Regions from separate parts of the Homo sapiens genome. Here region 1 is linked to region 2. The links come from fine-mapping of genetic effects on gene expression. A gene starts in region 2. The other region holds a variant in brackets. All regions are shown on one strand. Distances are from middle to middle. Region 1 holds the start of GLYATL1B (glycine-N-acyltransferase like 1B). Region 2 holds the start of FAM111A-DT (FAM111A divergent transcript).

Region 1 (9,569 bases), 56 kb after region 2:
GACTTTCAAAAAATAGAAAACTTCAATGAACTAATAGAAATATCGGAAATGAAATGAAATATCTACCATTTGAAAAGTGGACAAGAATTATGGCTTCCAGCTCCATCCGTGTTGCTACAAAGGACAATATTTTATTCTTTTCTATTGCTGTGTAGTATTCCATAGGAATACATGTACCAAGTTTTTTTATCCAATGCACCTTTGATGGGGATCTGTGATGATTCCATGTCTTTGCTATTGTGAACAGTGCAGCAATGAACATCCTAGTGCATGTGTCATTTTGGTAGAACGATTCATTTTCTTTTGGGTATTTACCTAGTAATGGCATTGCTGGGTCGAATGGCAACTCTCTTTTAAGTTCTCTAAGAAATTTCCAGACTACTTTCCACAGTGTAATAATCCTAAGCAAATTAATGCTGTAACAGAAAATCAAATATCACGTTTTCACTCATAACTGGGAGCTAAGCATTGAACATACATGGACATAAATGTGAGAACAATAGACACTATGGACTCTAGAGGGTGGAGGGAAAGGGGCTGGGTTAGAAAACTACCTATCGGGTACTATGCTCACTACCAGGGTGATGGGATCTGTCCATACTCCAAGACTCAGCATCATGCAATATTTGCGTGTAACAAATATGCACATGTACCCCCTTTATCTAAAAGGAAAGTTGAAATTACAAACTAAAAAGTAGCCAAAATTAGATTATTTTACATTTCAATTCTACATAAGGCAAAACCAAACACATAATTTTAATAGTAGACTTTGGTAACAGATGAAAATATCCTAATGCCAAATCTGGTAAAGAAATAACAAAAAGAGAGTTACTGACCATATTGGCTTATGAATACAGATGCAAAAATTCTGAATAAAATATTCAGTAGCATATGAAAAGAATGTGAACATGAACAGTTTGTTTTAGAAAGGCCAGAATGAGTTTGATCAGAAGATCTTTTAGGGTAATAAATTAAAGGAGGAAAAAATTACATGAGTATATAAATTGCCATAAAAAGACAAAAATGAAATAACATAAAATCTACCGTTCATTCTAAATATAATTTCTATGAAAATGGGAAAACAGGAAAGTGCTCTAAGCCTGTAAAGACAGAATTAAATGTAATTCCAAAGGTAAGTTTTTATAGCTATTTCATTAAAATCAGGAATGAGACAAGGATAGAACTTTTATTATGGCTACTTGGTATTGTTTTCTTAGGTTGTACATTATACAATAAGGCAAGAAAGTAAAAACCCATACAAATATTGGCAAAGAAGCAGCAAATTACTTTGTTTATAGATTACAGTATTACACATTTAGAAAATATAAGAGACTTCGACAGAAAACAAAAACAAATAACACCCCAGGCAAACAAAGAAGATTTTAAAGCATAGTGTGACATATTTGGAAATGAAGAATATAAATAGAAAGCAATAACAAAATAATAATGCTCAGAAATAGAAAAGGAAAAATAATTTAATAATCTTAAAAAATAATATAAAATACCTAAGGGTAAACTTAATGGAAAAATCACGTAGTTTACCTCAGGAAAACACTAATATTTTACCAGATGGCATAGAACAGAAACTGAAAAAAGTGAGAGAAAGACCATATTTCTTGATAAAAATATTTAGTATCACAAAAATATTAATGCTTCCACAATTGTCTAAAAAAGCTCCTCCAATACAAATCACAATTGCAATACTTAGTTGGGGAAATTGGGGAACTGAAAAATTAGTTTTTGTTCATATAGCTCTGAAGTTTATAAGAAATAGGAAAGCAAGAAAAAGATTAGTGAAGGGTGATTTGCTTTATTAGATATTAAAATTTGCCACAAAACAATGAAATAGCATGAGAAAAGATTAGAAACAAATACAGAAATAGCTACAAAAATATATAAAAGTTATATGACAAAATAGACATTTATGTTTCAGTAGCAGAATGACTTACTTAATAAATAGCACTAACGTAATTAGCCAGCCATTCGGGGGATAAATATAAAAGAATGTTAATTCATGCTATTCAAAAATATATTCCAAATAGAATGAAGTTTGAAATGTCAAAAGTAAAAATTAACTCACTGTAAGACAAAATGAAAAAAACAACTTGTACGATCTTGGTTTAGGAAAAATCTTCCTAATTATTAACAAAAAAACTCCCAAAGCCTCAGGAATCATAGTGAAAAAGATAATATATTTGATTACATGAAAATTAAAAATTGCTTCATGTGAAAATCTATCAAATTAGAAAATAATTCTAAATTGGGCAACAAATTTGTAGCATACACCTTGTGTTAGTATCCCTCATATCCAAAACACATAGAGAATTTTAAGAATGACACAAAATCCCAGTGTAAAAATGGTCAAACAATATAAACAGTTCAGAAGTAAACCCAAAATGACTGATAATCATATGAAAATATATGTTGAATATCACTAGTCAGGGAAATGCAAATTAAATCTACAATAAGATGCCACTTTTCACCCACCAGTTTGGCATAAAGTAGAAGAAGGATAACATTCACTGCTGATGAGAATGTGGGAAACAATTCTTCCACAGATTGCTAATGGAAATAATACTGTGGAATCCTTTGGGAGGGTAGTCTGGCAGTGCCTACTTAGGATAAGATAAGCTCTGACTTGGACTTATCCCTTTTGGAAACCAATTGCATTGAGAAAAGTTTCCAGGATGTAAAGACATGTATACAAGGATGTTTATTGAAGCATTGTTTGTAATGGCAAAGAAGTATGAACAATTTGAACCCAACAGGAGGAGAATGACTGACTAAATAGCATTGCATTGACTCTATGGAACGCCACAGTTATTAAAACAAATATGTTAGTGCTGTATTGATTCACTCAAAGCAATGTCCATATGTCAAAGGCAAATTAAAAAGCGATTACAGAAGAGATCATAACTGAATATCCGTTTGTGTGTTAATATGGCCAAGGACACCGATTACCCCAAAGGGTAGGAATGGAGGAGAGGAGGGCAAAGAGGTGAGAGGTTATTAACTTCTTAAAATCATGTTGAATTTTTCCACTTCTATAATCAGCATATATTATCTTTCTGATTAGGAACCAACAAAGAAAAATTAATATTTTTCTAGAGAAATTCTCCTGCATCTCACCTTAAAAAGGTCTTCTTCAAAATTGCATTGATTTTCAATACTGAAAGAAACATGGTATACTATGGAATCAGACTAAGTGAATGTATTTCCAAGTAAATTGCAGCATATTTCATTCTTTCCATTTTTTTGGTCATATATGTGTGGCATGGAACTTTTATATTTTAATATTTTTGTTTGCTGACTCACTATATAAAAACTAGCCTTGTTCAAAGCAATGCATATATGAAGTTACAGCTTGATGGTACAGTTACATTGTTAAAATACACATAGTGACTACAAAGTTACTGAAGTAAAAAGAACTATTTGGTTCATACAGTTATTTAGCGTATGACACTTTGAAGAAATTGGACCATGGATCAAGTAAACTAACCATTAATCATCGATCCGAAATTGTCAGGAAACCAGGAGATCAAAAGAACATCCCTGGGGAAGGTATTAGGCTCAGCTTATTATTATGTGGGGGCTCAGTGTCTATACCCACCTGAAGCTGGGCTGGCCATGAGGCTTCAGTTCACTAATCAGATGTGCATGAAACAGACACAAAAAGGGGAAGTCTTTAGGGCCAAAAAATAGACCTAGGTTTGTATTACTATTTCAGCTTAATCGTGTATTCCTTGTGTGTCCTCGGCCAATAATGGCTAATTATGGTAAATACTATTTAGAATTATGTGCTATATACTAAGTGTTTGACATGTGGTATCTCATTTAAACCTTGTGTAATCCTCTGAAGAATGTCCTCCTATTTTTCCCATTTTAACAGATGATAAAACTCACAGAAGGGCCTATGGTTATATAGCTAGTAAAAGTGGCAGAGTCCGTTGAACTTGAATTCAGATTGGGGAATGCTTTAACAGATGGTATCCAGCAGCTACCTGACTGAATATTTCTCAGTGTTGTTTCCTCATCTCTAAATTAAAGATATTAAAGCTCACTTTGTAAAATTGTTCTGATGATGACAGTCACTAACGAGTGAGGTGCTTCCACACAGTTGACACAAAGTAATTGTGTGTCCCTTCCCTGGTTCCTGAGAAGCAACTTTTATTGTTTTCATGACAGGGTCTCACTCTGTTGGCCAGGCTAGAGTAGAGTGGTGTGATCTTGGCTCACTGCAGCCTCAACCTTCTGGGGCTCAAGCCATCCTCCCACCTCCATCTCCTGAGTATCTAGGAGTATAGGCACGCATCACCATGCCCTGCTAATTTTGTTTATTTTTTTGTAGAGATGAGGTCTCATTATGTTGCACAGGCAGGTCCCAAACTCCTGGCCTCAAGCGATCCTCCTGCCTTGGCCTCCCAAAGTGCTGGGATTACAGATAAAAGACATCATGCCTGGCCATGAGATGTAATTTTACTGGTAGACTACTGCCTTGGTTTTTGGTTCTAAGTCACTGTTCCAATATCTCAGACAGCCAACTTTCCCTGTAAATTGGCCTCCATTCAGCCCCTGCAGGTGACCCCTGCCACCTCAAAGGGCCCTTAATCTGTGAGTGTCAGCTTTGTCCTTTTCCTCCCCTTCCCCCTTGACCCCCTTTCCCTAATGAGTCTTATGCTTTACAGGAAGAGTGTTAACATGTGGCACTCACGCAAGCTGCCCAGTACTGAAGGAGTGTTTTAAAATACTCACATTTCCTTTCACCCTATAAAAGCAGCCATGGTGTCTGAATTGGACAGTTCCTCAGGCCCTTTGGACCTGCCTGGCTCCACCAGTCCCTGTCTGTGTGCCTACCTGTTTTTGAGGTCGGATAATAACCATCTGATACTCGGGCCAGGAGTCCACCAACACTTCCATGTTGAAGGGGTTCCCGTGATTGATGTGAAACAGAGAGCCATACACCTGAAGGAGGGATGAAAGGGAATAGGAGAGGCTGAGATCCCCAGAGATGGGGGTCTGTATGTGAAGAGGAAGAGAAAAATGGAGATCAAGAGACAGTACTGGGACCAAGTCAGTGATGATGAGATGAACAGCATCTCCAGGACCATACTGATGGACATGAAGTCACCAGCAAACAGGCAGAACTCACAGGGAGGTGTTCTTGTGATACCACAGAGCTACTGTGCAGTAGCTGGGCACTTGTTAATGCACTTAGCACTTATATTGTATGGATTCATTCAGTGTCCACAACAACTTTAAGAGGTAGGTACTAATATTATTCCCATTTTATTAATGAAAAGACCAAACGTAAAGAAAGCTAAAGGCACAGGCACAATGATATCTGACTAAAAAATGGCAGCCTTGCAATGCATATTTATTGAATCTGGCCCCAAACCGATGTTCGTAGCCACCATTCTTCACCACCTCTCCAAATGAGTGATAAAATCTGCAGAGTCGGCCTAGTTGCCTGTTGCCGAGGAGAAGCAGCAGCTCTTAACATGCCTCCTTTGTCCCCAACCCCATCCTGTTTCCCAGCTCCAACCCTCTGCACAAAGTCAGGAAGGACGAGATTCATGAGCCTGTTAGTTTCTCATCCTCAACACCCCTACTCCCATACCCCAACCTCCCACTGTTCCTTCACCTTCAGGGACTCAGGAATGCTCCTTGCTAAAGATTTGAATAGGGCCAGCAGCCGCTCGGAATTATTCAATAGAATCATTTTGTGGGATGCTTCAGTCCTCAAGCCCTTCAAGAAAAAAACTCTGAAGAGAAGTGGAGGGAAAATGTTAAAGGACCAGATGAAATTAAAATGCACTTTACACATCTCCATTCAAGTAACACTCATGATGTAGGTACTGTTAGTATCGTCTTCATTTTGAATACGCCAAAGCTTA[G/AG]AGAGACTAAATAAATTTCTCAAGTTCTTACAGGGATAAACGACAGAGTCATATCCAAAACCCATGCATTTCCTCTCTGGTGGAATGAATAAAAGTGAATATTAAGAGTTCTGTGAGCTTCCCACATGCCTGTAGCAGAACACTCCACCACCATCACCATAACTTTTCCTTGTATTTTGCACATCAGATGCCTGAGGAGTCTTCTTTCTTCTGGAATAGAAAATATCTAAGAACAGTTGTGACTGGAAACCTCAGAGCAGGAGTTGGCAAAGATTTTATTTAGTTTCTTAGGGCTAAATATTTCAGATCTATAACCATTTAGAAATTTTTCCCAGTTTCATTACAAAAATAAGAAAAAAACATGGAAAATTTTGAAACATATCTGTAAATTTCGTTCGATATAACACTTGGAATTCTTACAAATGTGACAAAGAGTATAACAGTTGACATTCCATAGGGCCAAACCGGTTCTTAGCCAAAAGGGACTTTACTGAGAGCCCTCATTTTTAAATGTAGTTCAATGCATTGTTTTTCATTTGGAATGTTCCACTCTAAGTTATCTTTAGTAAGATTTTGCCATTTGCGTAAGACTTCTCTGCCTCCCAGTCCTAATGTATAAGCCAGAAAGAACTCAGTTTTTCAGAAATTAAGGATTCCATTTTTACCGAAACTACTGGCTTTACTCTCAGGTTCTTTTGATTAACTTAGCCAATGAATTTCCCTACCTAGGTGGAGAAGAAAAATGAAACAAATGGGTAGAACACAAAAATCCCTGTGAATTTCCCAAAGCCGAATTTTATGACTGCTGCGACATTACTGCTTACTACCACTTCCTTTATGACCCAGTCAGCTGTTAGTGGCCTCTACTGTTAGTGGCCTCTAAGTGGATCCAAGCCAGTTAATTCCCAGATCAAATTCATTCCTAGACCCAGTCCATTTTCTGTTGCAACTCCAAAACCAGTTTGGATCACAAATTTGCTCAAGGAAACTCAGAGAGCTCAAAACACAAATGTGTGAAGCTCCAAAATGCAAGAGGGAGCTTACCTTTGATCCTCAGCTGCTCTGAGAGATCAATGGACACAAGTGGATCCTGCAGGTACCTTCTGTGTTTACTCAGTGCTCCTGGGGATACTAGAAGCTCCACTTCAGATTCTGCTTCTGACACAATCTGATAAAATAAAAACTTCAGCTGACTTAAATTTAAAGGAGTTTAGTTGAGCAATGAACAATTCATCGATCCAGCAGCCTTCAGAATCACAGCAGATTCATGGAGGCTCCAGGGGTGTCTTGTGGTCAAAACAAATTTATAGGGAAAAAAAGTTAAAGTGACATCCAGGAACCAGAAATGAGTTACAGAAACAGTGAGATTGCTGTCAGCTGGGCGTTTGCCTTATTTAAACACAGTTTGAGCATTCAGCAGTCTATGAGTGGTGATGTAAGGCTGCTGGGACTGGCCAACATTCAAGTATTGTTACAGGTGCACACTCCTAAATTAGGTTTTCAATTTTGTCTGACTATTAAGCTAGGTTACTCTTCACCCACAAGGACTCAAATGAAGTACAGAGTCCTTCTCAGACCATATTTAATTTGCTTTAACACTTTGTAGCAAAATTCATTGAAAGGATTGTCTACAAATGCTATTTCCAATCCTCCTCCTAATCTTCTCTAACTGGGTTTTTGCTGCTACCATTTTACTGAAACATTTTTTAAAGCCATCAGTGATCTCTATGTTATTAAATCCAGTGATCAGTTATTGCTTCTGTTCTTAATAGATCATTCTTTAAGACTTTCCTCACTTGGTTTCCAAGAAAACACACTCTCTTCGTTTTCCTTTAACTTCACTGGTTATTTCTCAGTCTCCTCTGTGGACCCTTCTTTTCTCCCCAACTTCTTAATTTTGCATCACTTTAGAGTTCAATCATTGGCCTTCATTTGTATCCACACTTACTCCCTGGTAATCACATCTGGTCCCATGGCTTTAAAATCAATCTGCTTGCCAATGACTAATACATTTATATTAGTATTAAAACTCTTTTCCAAACTCAAGACATATGTATCTAATGGCCTGTTTCATATCTCTTGGATTCCACCCAATAGCCATCTCAAACTCATTATGTCTCAGATCAAACTCCTTATCCACCCTCTCCACCCAGCCTACTTCACCTGTAGTCTTTCTCAATTAAGTTGATGGCAACTCTACCTTTTCATCTATTCAAATAAAAACTCTTGGAATTACTCTTATGTATCTTTTCCCCTCCCACATTATATCCAATCCATTATGACATTCTGCTCATTCTGGTTGGGAGAAAATTCTTCATGCCTCTCACATTTCTGCATGTCTTAGGAGCAGAGACATTGACAGCCTTTGCTCCTAACTTTTCAAGGATGTTTGTAAAGAGTACAGCTTGGAAGCTAGAGATACTGCTTTCTTCTGAAGCAGAAGGCAGTTTTGCTGCAACACACATCTATTGCATTTGCGACATTAATCTGTCTTTCTGTATTTCCTCTGTAGGACTTGTGGAGCAAAGATGACTGACACAAACACATAACTCATTCTGCCTGGTGAAGGCATATAAAATCCTGCCTTTACCTGGAAGCTTGTGTCATCTGCCAGCATTTCTGCATCTGTGCCCCTGTAAACTTTTAGATGCTTCACAGTTCTCGGCAGTCTTTTCTGGATGGAGAATGTCTTTAGTCTTTTCTCTATGTAAAACCAGAATGCTCTTTTTAAAACAAAAGCCACATTTTGTTATTTGTTGTGCAACTCCTGCTGTCACTCCCAATCTCATTCAGAGAAAGATATATAAAAGCCTTATAACAGCCCTCTAAGTTTTCCATGACTTAGAATCCAGTCACCTCTCTGACATCCCTCCAGTCATGTCCCTGACTTCAATCTCTTTGCCTTCTCTGCTTTAGGCACTTTGCTGTCCTTTTTCTTCTGCTTGCATTCTGTTTTCTCATTATACCTATAGAAAACCTTATTACCTTATTTAAGTCTTCACCTTAAAGCCACTTGCTCGATGAGGCATCCTGTGACCATCCTATTAACAATTACAACTGTTCCCTTAGTTTCTCTGCAATGCTCCTGTTCCCCATGGTCATTCTCTGCCTCTTATCTTTTTCTTTTTTTGACAGGGTCTCAGTCTGTCACCTAGGCTGGAGTGCAGTGGCTGGATCATGAGTCGCTGCAACCTTGAGCTTTAAGGCTCAAGCATCCTCCCACCTCAGTCTCCTGATTAGCTGGGACTACAGGCATGAATCAATGTGCCTGGCTAATTGTCTTATTTTTATGTTATAGAGATGGTGGGGGGGTGGTCTTCGTTTTGCAGGCTGGTCTCAAACTACTGGTTATAGTTTTATAATTTTCTGTGCCACACTCTGATACCCCAAAATATCTAGCAGAGACAAACATAAAACCCCGAAAAAAATGTATGCTGACAATTCTGAAGACATTTCTATTTTTGTATTACAATAATTTTTATGCTAGCTTCTTAAAAATTTACTTAAGTAACGTGAATGTAAAAAAACTTTTTTACTTAATCTAGGAGAGTTCTTTTATGTAGAAGCCAATTTCTAGTCACAACATATAATGTAATACGTGTGCATGCACATAAACACATCTATATGTATATACACACGAAGATCCAAAAGCTTTTACCTTGGAACTCTAGCCAT
Region 2 (9,569 bases):
GTAAACAACTATGGATTGTTAAAAATTTACAGGAGGGTTGTGACCTGGAGAACAAATATAAATATAATCTTTAGATAACTTCCATTTGACAAGAAATACAGGGGCTAGAACATAAGCTAAACAACAACATGTAGAAGCAGCCCAGGAAATTAACATTCTATAGAGACAACTTATCTGTTCTCTTCAGCAAATCAATGCTTGGGCTCACTGGAACATCAGGACAAAGACATTCCCAACCTTCTTGGATCCTTGATGGTGCTCAGATGTCTCCAGTCAATGGTCACCTCTTGATCGTAAATCCCTTCTCTTCCCCATGCCCTTAACATAAAGAGCCTGAAACTTGTACTCACTTAAGAGGCTACTTTGGGTTGCTAGTCTGCCATCTTCTCAGTTTGCTGGCTCTCTGAATGAACCTGCTTTTCCTCCCACCAACTCTCATCTCTCATGTTTGGCTTTGAGGTGTGAGTTGCCAAACCCGGGTTTGGCTACCCTTACACCATCCTTTTATTTTACTAGATGATTTATGTTACAGCTAGAAACATCATGACATTTAAACGCTAATGGTCACTTCCCATCTCTAAAAATTACATAATTTTTCTTTTATAATCACAATACTGATTTATTCATACCAAGATCCAACTGAGGTACACAGTTTCCTTTATATGTCTTATAAGGCTCTTTTATTCTAGAAAAAGCACTGATTTGTTGAAGAGAACAGAGAAATTGTCTCTATAGAATGTTCACCTCCTGGGTTGTTTCCTCATGTCATTGTTTAACTTATGTTCTAGCCCCTGTATTTCTTGTCAAATGGAAGTTATCTAAAGGCTATGTTTACTCTCGTAACCATTCCACTATGGAACAAGAGTCCTGGCTTTCTAGTTTACTGTCAGTCATTGACTAGGGAAATTCATTTAGCCTTTCTGAGCCTCAATTTCTTGTTTGTAAAAAGAAGCAATGATTCTAAATGAGATAATGAATATGGAAGTGCTAAAATAATGTTAGAACTTATAAAACTGTCTGAGTTCAAATATCAGGTAGCCACTTACTAGCTGCATGACCTTGGGCATATTAATTAACTATTCTTCCTTCATTTTCCTCACCTTAAGGTGGGAATCAACCTTGTTATAAAGATTAAGAAATATATTGTGGTCTGGGTGCGGTAGCTCATGCCTGTAATCTCAGCACTTTGGGAGGCCAACGCTGATGGATCACTTGAAGTCAGGAGTTCGAGGCCAGCTTGGCCAACCTGGTGAAAACCTGTCTCTACTAAGAATTAAAAATTAGCTGGGCATGGTGGTGGGTGCCTGTAATCCCAGCTACTTGGGAGACTGAGGCAGGAGAGTGGCTTGTACCTGGGAGGCAGAGGTTGCAGTGATCCGAGATCACACCACTGCCCTCCAGCCTGAGGCCTGAGCAACAGAGCGAGACTTCATCTCTCTCTCTCTCTCTCTGTCACACACACACACACAATATATATATACACACATACACACACATATTATATATATTATATATGCAATCTATCTATATATACAGTGTGTGTAAATATATATATATATAGAGAGAGAGAGAGAGCATATGCAAAGCCTTTAAAACACTGCCTGTATGTAATAGGTCCCCCAGTAAATAATCAATAAAAAGGTCATGTAAATGTTATCAATATCAATACACTCACCACAGGGATACTTTTTAAACAGCAGAGAACCTAGGAAAAAAAATAGAAAATGTACAATTGCGGAACTGGGCTATGTTGCAACATCCCTAAATGCAAGAACTTGTTGCCCAACTATTAAGAAAATCTAGGGATTCACTGTGTCTGTTCATGATGTCTCATCTTACGAAGTTTGAGAGAGGATCCGGGTGCTTTAGGAATGATTAATAGACACAGACAAAAAAAGGAAAATAAAATGGGCAGAAAGAAACATTAATTTTGCATGTACTTGAGCAATCACAGTGGAAAGGGGCAAGAGGTTAAGAAAACACTCCAATATCCTCCGTCTCCCTACATTGTTTTCAGTATCCAGGATAAATCAGATTATATCAAAATATAAAGTGCTCTTAGCTATCCTATACCAACCCCTGTTTTATACTTGACATCAAGGTTCTACTTACCTAAAGAACTTGCTTGACTTCCTACAGCAAAGGGATAAAGCAGTGCAGCCTGGGGCCCATGTCCAGCCCACCTGACAGCTCCCCTTAGGAATTTCTCTGTCTCTCAATCTCTCCTTCCTTCCCTCTCTCCTTCCCCCTCTCTGCCTCTCTCCCTTTCCTCCCCTCCTTCACTCTCCCTCTTCCTCTCTCCCTTTCCTCCCCTCCTTCACTCTCCCTCTCTTCCTGCTTCTCCGCACCCCAACCCCCACTTTCTGCCTTTCCAGGGGCAAGGGCAGGGGTCGAGGCCAACTCTAAGCCTCTTCCAATCCTACCACGCCGCCCCGCTCCCCCCAGCACACAAGGGGACTTGCAGCACTACCAAAATAAAACCTGTGTCCTCCCGGCTCCCCAGATGGGTGGCGCTGTCAGTCCCCGGCTTCCTGACACCCAGCTCCTTCTCCTCCCAGCCGGGACTCGAGCCCGCCGCGGCCGCGCCCGTGACCGCGCCCCGCGGAGCACCCCAGCGCCCTGTGTGCTCACTCACTGCGCGCCTCGCCAGCACTCGGCCTGGAATCCAGCGCTCAACGCAGTTCCCGCTCGTATTTGAGGAAGCAAAGGCTCCAGAGCTCCAGCTGGGCGGGAAACGGAGCAGGTGGGGCTAGGGGTTTGAATCGCCCGCCTTTTGGGAAAAGGTTGTCTGCGAACCAATTGGTTACTTTCTTTCACTTTTAAATCAGCCGTGCCTCTTCCGGCCTAAACCTCAGGTAGCTACAGCGTGCAGTACTTGACGCTGTGTTTATATCAGACAGCACTGCCAGTCTGAAACAAAACTTTCTGAATTTCCTAATCCCCAGAGCCAGCGTGAGAAGTAGACTTGAGCCTGTTCTCTTCCCTTGAACTTTTCTTTTACACGAGTACAACAAAAAACAAGAACAGAGACAAGTCGTAGTGTTGCTAGTGATAAGGCAGATTTTTCACCAAGCCTAAAAAGCTTTTAAAAATCTGGTCCCATAACCAAAGGGGTTCCTAGAAAGATTTCTTTATGCCTAGGGACAAAATAAACTCAGCGCTTGAAAAACTGAGCAAAAAGAAACTGGAGTTCAACCTGATGCAAGATCTACTTTCTCCACCTTTGAGATCAGGGAGAGCCTCAAGAAGGTTGAAGGGACTTCAGGGCACACACTGATTCTGAGTTGAGGGTTGGGAGGTTGATTAGGTCTTGCTGGAGCCTCCAAGAATGTCAAATGTTGGCTCCCAGTAATATCAAAGCAACCTGTTGATAAGACAAAGCTAAGTTTCTTGCTCACTTAGGTAATGGAGAACAATAACTTGACAGAATTTAAGTGGTGTCTCAGAGAGGGAAGAGCAAGTTTGGGCTATATGTATTGAGATTTTGAAGTCCCATTGTAAGTCTAATATTTAATGAGGGGAATTGGTTAGAATTGAGTCAGCTACGGGTAAAAGTTTAGGATTGGTAGATAAAACAAGGCTAGGATTTTGAGGTAAAGGTTCAAAGTCTTAGAATGTAAACTGTTCTTTGATGTTTTCCATTGAAGAGTGGTTGGATCTTTGAAGAAGATACTGGATTAAGCAATAAAGATATTTGCAACTTTCCGGTCCCTGGCAAAAGTTTCTTGAAATAGTAAATGTATGTTGATGAAAATAATGGAATAAGAAGTCAGGTTAATGTAGTTGGCAAGCTATGTGAGTGTAGATGGCTTCAGTTCTCACAATAGTGAACATACCTGATAATGTACTCAACATTTGTCACTTAGAGTATTTTATCCTGGAAAGAAGCGTAGTTGGGAAAACGCACTTGAGATGATGTTTGCTGCACACAGAATTCGGACACAGAGATGTGAATCTCCTTAGGAACCATTTTCATAAAGTTAACATTGGGTCTTAATAGACATCAGTTTTTAAAAATTAGAACAGGCTTGGGCACTGCAAAAGAAAGACACATCCGTTCACTTGGCTGTTCTTTTTAAGTTTCCAGGGAGAGCGTCAGTGCCCCTTTCAACAATAAAAGCCCGCAGGAGTGCAGATTTTATTTACCCTGTCCCCACCAGCATCCTGCTGCGGCCAATGAATCCTGGCAAAACTCCAGGTCAGCCCCAGAACCAAAGAGTAACTCACCTAAGAGGAAGGTCCGTTCCCACCAAGTCTCAGACGCCTGAACTCGTGATTTTTAGGGACTTTCCCTTCCAGTCCCTTGGAATCCAGCACTTTGGTTGGAGAACAGAACTCACTTGGGGAATGGCGCGTCTGGCCAATGGAATGAAAGATACTGGAGTTTGTCTTTTCTCTTCAGGCAGCAACTCACCTACTTCGGAAGCCGATTGGCTGCGCTGGGGACACCTGTTGGCGTGCAAAAAAGAGTGGTTGGAAAGGCAAGGCCGAGGGGGCGCGCCTACCCTACCCACCCACAGCGCTCCTCCTTGACGCCGCGAGCAGGACCCTGTCTCACTGACCCCGTGCCCACGGCGGTCCTTGCCTGCTTCTATTCTCCCGGTTTCCCCAGTCCCGAGTATTGGAAAGCGAGAGCGAAAGCGAAAGCATCCTAGTCGCCGGTAGGCTGGCCTGGGCCGGGCTGGAGAGGGAGCAGGAAATAAAAACTCGGGTGTGGGAGGAGCTGGGACGCTGGCGGCAGAGCCACTGTGGCAGCTTGAGTCTCGCGCGCGCAGGAAGCGGAGGTGGAAGTTGGGGCGCAGGAATGTGGCTGTCCCCGCCTGTAAATCATGGTTGGGGAGGAGTCGCGGAGGCACCAGGCTGGGGTCTGCAGCGCGCCATCTGCTGCAGCACACAGGAGGCGCTGAGGCTAGTTGGGTAAGTGGGGAGATTTCAGGCACTTCCGAGGGGGCGGCATCCCCAGCAGGTGGGATAGGCCCGGTGACTAGGACAAAATCACGAAGAAGCCGCGGATGCAGGAAGAGTAAACTCCCTTGTCATAAATCGATTCTCCAAACGTTCATCAATATGTGGAGACGTTTATGATAGTGATGAAGAAGATGATATGGGCTCTAGGAATATGCATCTCAAAGCTGATGATCGAAGAAGATTGGAGAGGGTTTTCAAGGCAGCCTGCTGTTTAAGGACCTGCATTCTGAGTAGATGTGTATTGGAAAAGGCGATTACAGTCACAAAGGGGACAACTTTTATGCAATTGACAGAGGACTATATGATGTATATAAACAGATAGGGTTGAAAGGTGTGTTGGTAACTACAAAACACATGGGAATTTGAAGGAAGGAACTGGCCTTAAATGCATGTACAATACACCAAGAGAAGCTAAAATTACTGCTTCATCTTCTGTGGGTTCTTTGGGGTTTGGATAGAGTAACCTTAAAACATATTTGAATGCTGACTTTTTCTATGAGACTCACTTTTGGAATCTGTGCATTCCTACATTCACAAAGGGTAATCACAGCTAGTACCCAGCATCCAAACAATAGCAGCCAATAATTCTAATCTGGAGAAAATTTTCTTTTCTCTCTCTTTCTCTCTCTCTCTCTCTTTCTTTCTTTCTCTTTCTTTCTTTCTTTCTCTTTCTTTTTTTCTTTTTCTTTCCTTCTTTCTTTCTCTTTTTTCTTTTCTTCTTCATTCCTTCCTTCCTTTCTTCCTTTCTTTTTTCTCTTTATTTCTTCTCTTTCTTTCTTTCTTCTTTCTTTTTTCTTTTATCTTTCTTTCTTTCTCACTTTTCTCCTTCCCTCCCTCCCTCCTTTCTTCCTTCTTTCTCTTTTGCCTGTTTTACATTTTAATGTGTAAGCAAATAGTGATTAAAGGACAATAGGCTTAACATTTTCTAAAACATGGGTGTTCAGAATTGAATATACTGATAAAATTTGTTTCCAAAAGGAAGGATTATATACTAGGTGGGAGTGTAAATTAGTTCAACCATTGTGGAAAACAGTGTGGCAATTCCTCAAAGACTTAAAAACAGAACTACCATTCAACCCAGCAATCCCATGACTGGGTATGTACCCAAAGGAATATAAATCATTCTTTCATAAAGACACACGAACACGTATGTTCCTTGCAGCGCTGTTCACAATAGCAAAGAATCAACCTAAATGCCTATCAGTGGTAGGCTGGATAAAGAAAACTCAGTATACCATTGAATACTACACAGCCATAAAAAATAATGAGATCATGTCCTGTACAGGGACATGGATGGAGCTAGAGGCCATTATTCTTGGCAAACTAATGCAGGAACAGAAATCAAATACTGCATATTATCACTTATACGTGGGAGCTAAATGATGAGAACACATGGACACGCAGAGGGGAACAACAGACGCTGGGGCCTATCGGAGGGTGGTGGATGGAAGAAGGGAGAGGATCGGGAAAAACAACTAATGGGTACTAGGCTTAATACCTTGGTGGTGAAATAATCTGTACATCAAACCCCCATGACATGAGTTTATCTATATAGCAGACCTGCACATGTACCACTAAACTTAAATAAAGCTTTTAAAAAAGTTTTCAATCTACGAAGTTGAGATTTACTAGAAAGGTTATTCAAATGACTTTGACATATTGAAATATTAGTGCACAAGGAGATAATAAAAAGTTATTATTATAGAAGATATAAAACTTGTACCACCTAATATCTGTGCAACTAAATCTACTATGTACCAAGATATTTATCAATATTCTTTCTGAAATTTTTATGTCGTTTTGTATAATTTTAATCATATTTCTTTTAAAAACATTTATGGCATGATAAGTTATGTGTTGGCTTATTGCGGAAAGGGCCTAAAATAACAATTCTTAAACTTTATATATATTTGCAATGAAATATATTTTGGCTTTAGACAATAGGAACATAACCTTTTTTTGGATGAAAGATTACTGTCACATTTTTTCTTCATTATCTGACATCTTTGTCATTTTCTTAACTTATATTACTAATTAAAGTTCCCTACCTTTTCAAAAGAAAAAAAGTCTAATATTGACATTTATTTATCTGTAGCAAACTTTAGCTATTGTTTTTTCTACTAATTTCAGGCAAAAATGAAGTATTAATTTCAGTTACAAAATATAGCTTAGTAAGATCTAAACCAAATAAAATTCACATTCTAAAGACTACAAACAAGTTTTAAAAAGATATTTTGGCCATTAAACTTATTTATTAAATTTAACTTTTGTCTTCTAAGAACCAGAGTTCTTACAATTACTATGAAGCTCCTATTCTATAATCATAGCCTGGGTTCCTTGTCAATGCTTCATTAAACAGGCTATTTTTTTCTTTTTTCTTTTTTCTTTTTTTTTAGAGACAGAGTCTCACTGTGTCACCCAGGCTGGAGTGAAGTGGCATGATCTTGGCTTACTGAAACCTCCATCTCCCAGGTTCAAGCGATTCTCATGCCTCAGCCACTTGAGTAGCTGGGACTACAGGATTTCGCCATGTTCCCCAGGCTGGTCTCAAACTCCTGAACTCAGGCAGCCCGCCTACCTTGGCCTCCCAAAGTGCTAGGATTACAGGTATGAACCACCGCGCCCGGCCAGTTTCTTAATTCTTAGACTAAATCTACGGGGGACACACTTTTGCCAACATTAGCTGCAAAGGGTTTTTTCCTCCACACTTAAGTCACGGTCAGTAAGTAGTTTTTTTTTTTTTCCTGTGTTTTTGTTTCCTTGTTTGTTTTTATTTGGGAAAATGCCTCTTTTGATAGTAATGAATTATTTTTTACACGCAAGGTCAAAAACAGCATGGAGTGAATTTTCTTCCACACGTATACACCCTTTTTTATTCCTGCCTCTGGCTGTAAATAGTTGCACAGTTAAAAGCAGGATGGACTTAACGGAGTATCATTTATATTTATAATTGCTGTATTTGTAATTCTGCTACAGAAATGAATTCTGTTATTATAATCAAAGGTTACACTGTTATCTGAATTCTTGAAAAATATGTAAAAATACTGCTCTTGTGGCTTTTCATAGGTTTATAGTCTATAAACACTAATTTTAATCAATAATTCATATCATTTATGATTAATTTTATGAGAAACAGATAACAATAATAGACATAGGCATAATTATTTTGTGACAGCTGGTGTGTTTGGAGTATTTACTATCACCCTTAAATATGATACCCTGGCTGGAAAACATTAATTTGATAACATACCTTTAAGAAATTATATAAAATATGCAAAAGCATAACCTTATGCACATTTTTAAAACAAGGCCTTCTTGTAGGAAAAAGATTACACCATGCATGAAGATGTTTTGTTTTCTATCATTATTTGAATTTATTTTAAAGGCCATTACTGCTCTGTGTGTGTATATATATATATATACATAAATATACATATATATACACACACGTATGAAACCAAAAATTCCAGGTTCATCATATTATACACAGATTTTCTTTTTTGTTGCCCTTATTCTTAATCATTGAAAGCACTGAAAATCAATACCTGTTTGATAAGATGTGCAATCAAGTTAAAAATATCACAGTTATTATATATAAAACTTTCTTAAGATTACTTTTGTAGTAACCTTTAAAAGGGGTGGTGGTGGTGTGGGATCCCTTGGCAAAGTCCAACTTGGCTGCTTAACTGCTTTCATTGGCCTGGCTAACACTTATGTCTGCCCACGGAAGCAGCAGGGAGTGTGTAGAGGGAAATGACCTCTGCTGCTGTACTGCTTTGAGTTCCTCTCTGAGCTTGGCATTTACATGTGTCTGTTTCATTTAATACTCTCAATAACCCTGTGGGGAAGGTGAGATTATCTTCGCCATTTCACAAAAAGCTTTAGCAAATAATTGTGCAGAAACATCCTTATGAGGATTTGTATTCCCATCTGAAACTAGAAGCCAAACTTATTCTATTGAATGATGGCTGCCTCTCAGATCTAACTGCAAAAAGGCACAGTGGCTTACTTCTTCCTAGTATAATGCTTTTTCATTAATCCAATAATCTATTCAAGGTATAAATTTCGGGTGGCAATTTACAAGATCCGGTGCCACATTCTATGAAGGGTAAAATGTTGACCCCTGCCCTCAAATAGGGAAGACAGAAGAGGTACACAAATAATATCATTTCCACATGGTTTCATTCATTTAAGAGATGTGTTAATTCCTACTTTGTGCCAGGTATTGTACTGGACATTGGGGAACAGAGGTGAATGAATATGATTCTCACATTCATGGACCCAGAGCAGTTTAATGCAATATTGTATCTAAGCCTAGTGCTTTTCCAGGTCACGTCTCATAGCCTATCCAATATATTAAAATGCACACACATTCTATATTAAATACACGTTTGCTGTTTAATCTAGTTTGAAGTACTTGGAGAATTGGAAGAACCAGTGGCCGAGTGTGGAAAATTGTTCTCAGATCTTCCCCCTTCCCTGTACACACACTGGTTGCCAGGTGCCTTTGCAGTTGCTCTCCACCCCATCAATGTTGGGCTTTGGGCAGTAGAATATAGACAGAATTAACACTGTGCTGAGCTCGACCCTGAAAGCCACTG

Evidence for each region. PIP is the estimated chance that this variant, and not a neighbour inherited with it, causes the effect.
Region 1: its variant is fine-mapped to the expression of FAM111A-DT in fibroblasts (GTEx, PIP 0.91).

Annotation. Positions count from the first base shown.
Region 1 is chr11:59,082,457-59,092,025 of GRCh38, reverse strand. It overlaps GLYATL1B (glycine-N-acyltransferase like 1B), which reads right to left and starts at 5,719. Exons shown (of 5, transcript NM_001355566.1): 1 at 5,642-5,719; 2 at 4,855-4,962. The coding sequence starts at 5,719. The variant G/AG (reference allele first, on the strand shown) is at 5,895.
Region 2 is chr11:59,137,963-59,147,531 of GRCh38, reverse strand. FAM111A-DT (FAM111A divergent transcript) reads left to right here and starts at 4,724. Exons shown (of 4, transcript NR_110184.1): 1 at 4,724-4,917; 2 at 7,365-7,575. FAM111A (FAM111 trypsin like peptidase A) reads right to left here and starts at 4,676. Exons shown (of 6, transcript NM_001312909.2): 1 at 4,586-4,676; 2 at 4,228-4,449; 3 at 3,837-4,035; 4 at 1,676-1,705. It also overlaps the pseudogene LOC100422399. RefSeq lists enhancers at 2,981-3,090, 4,459-4,908.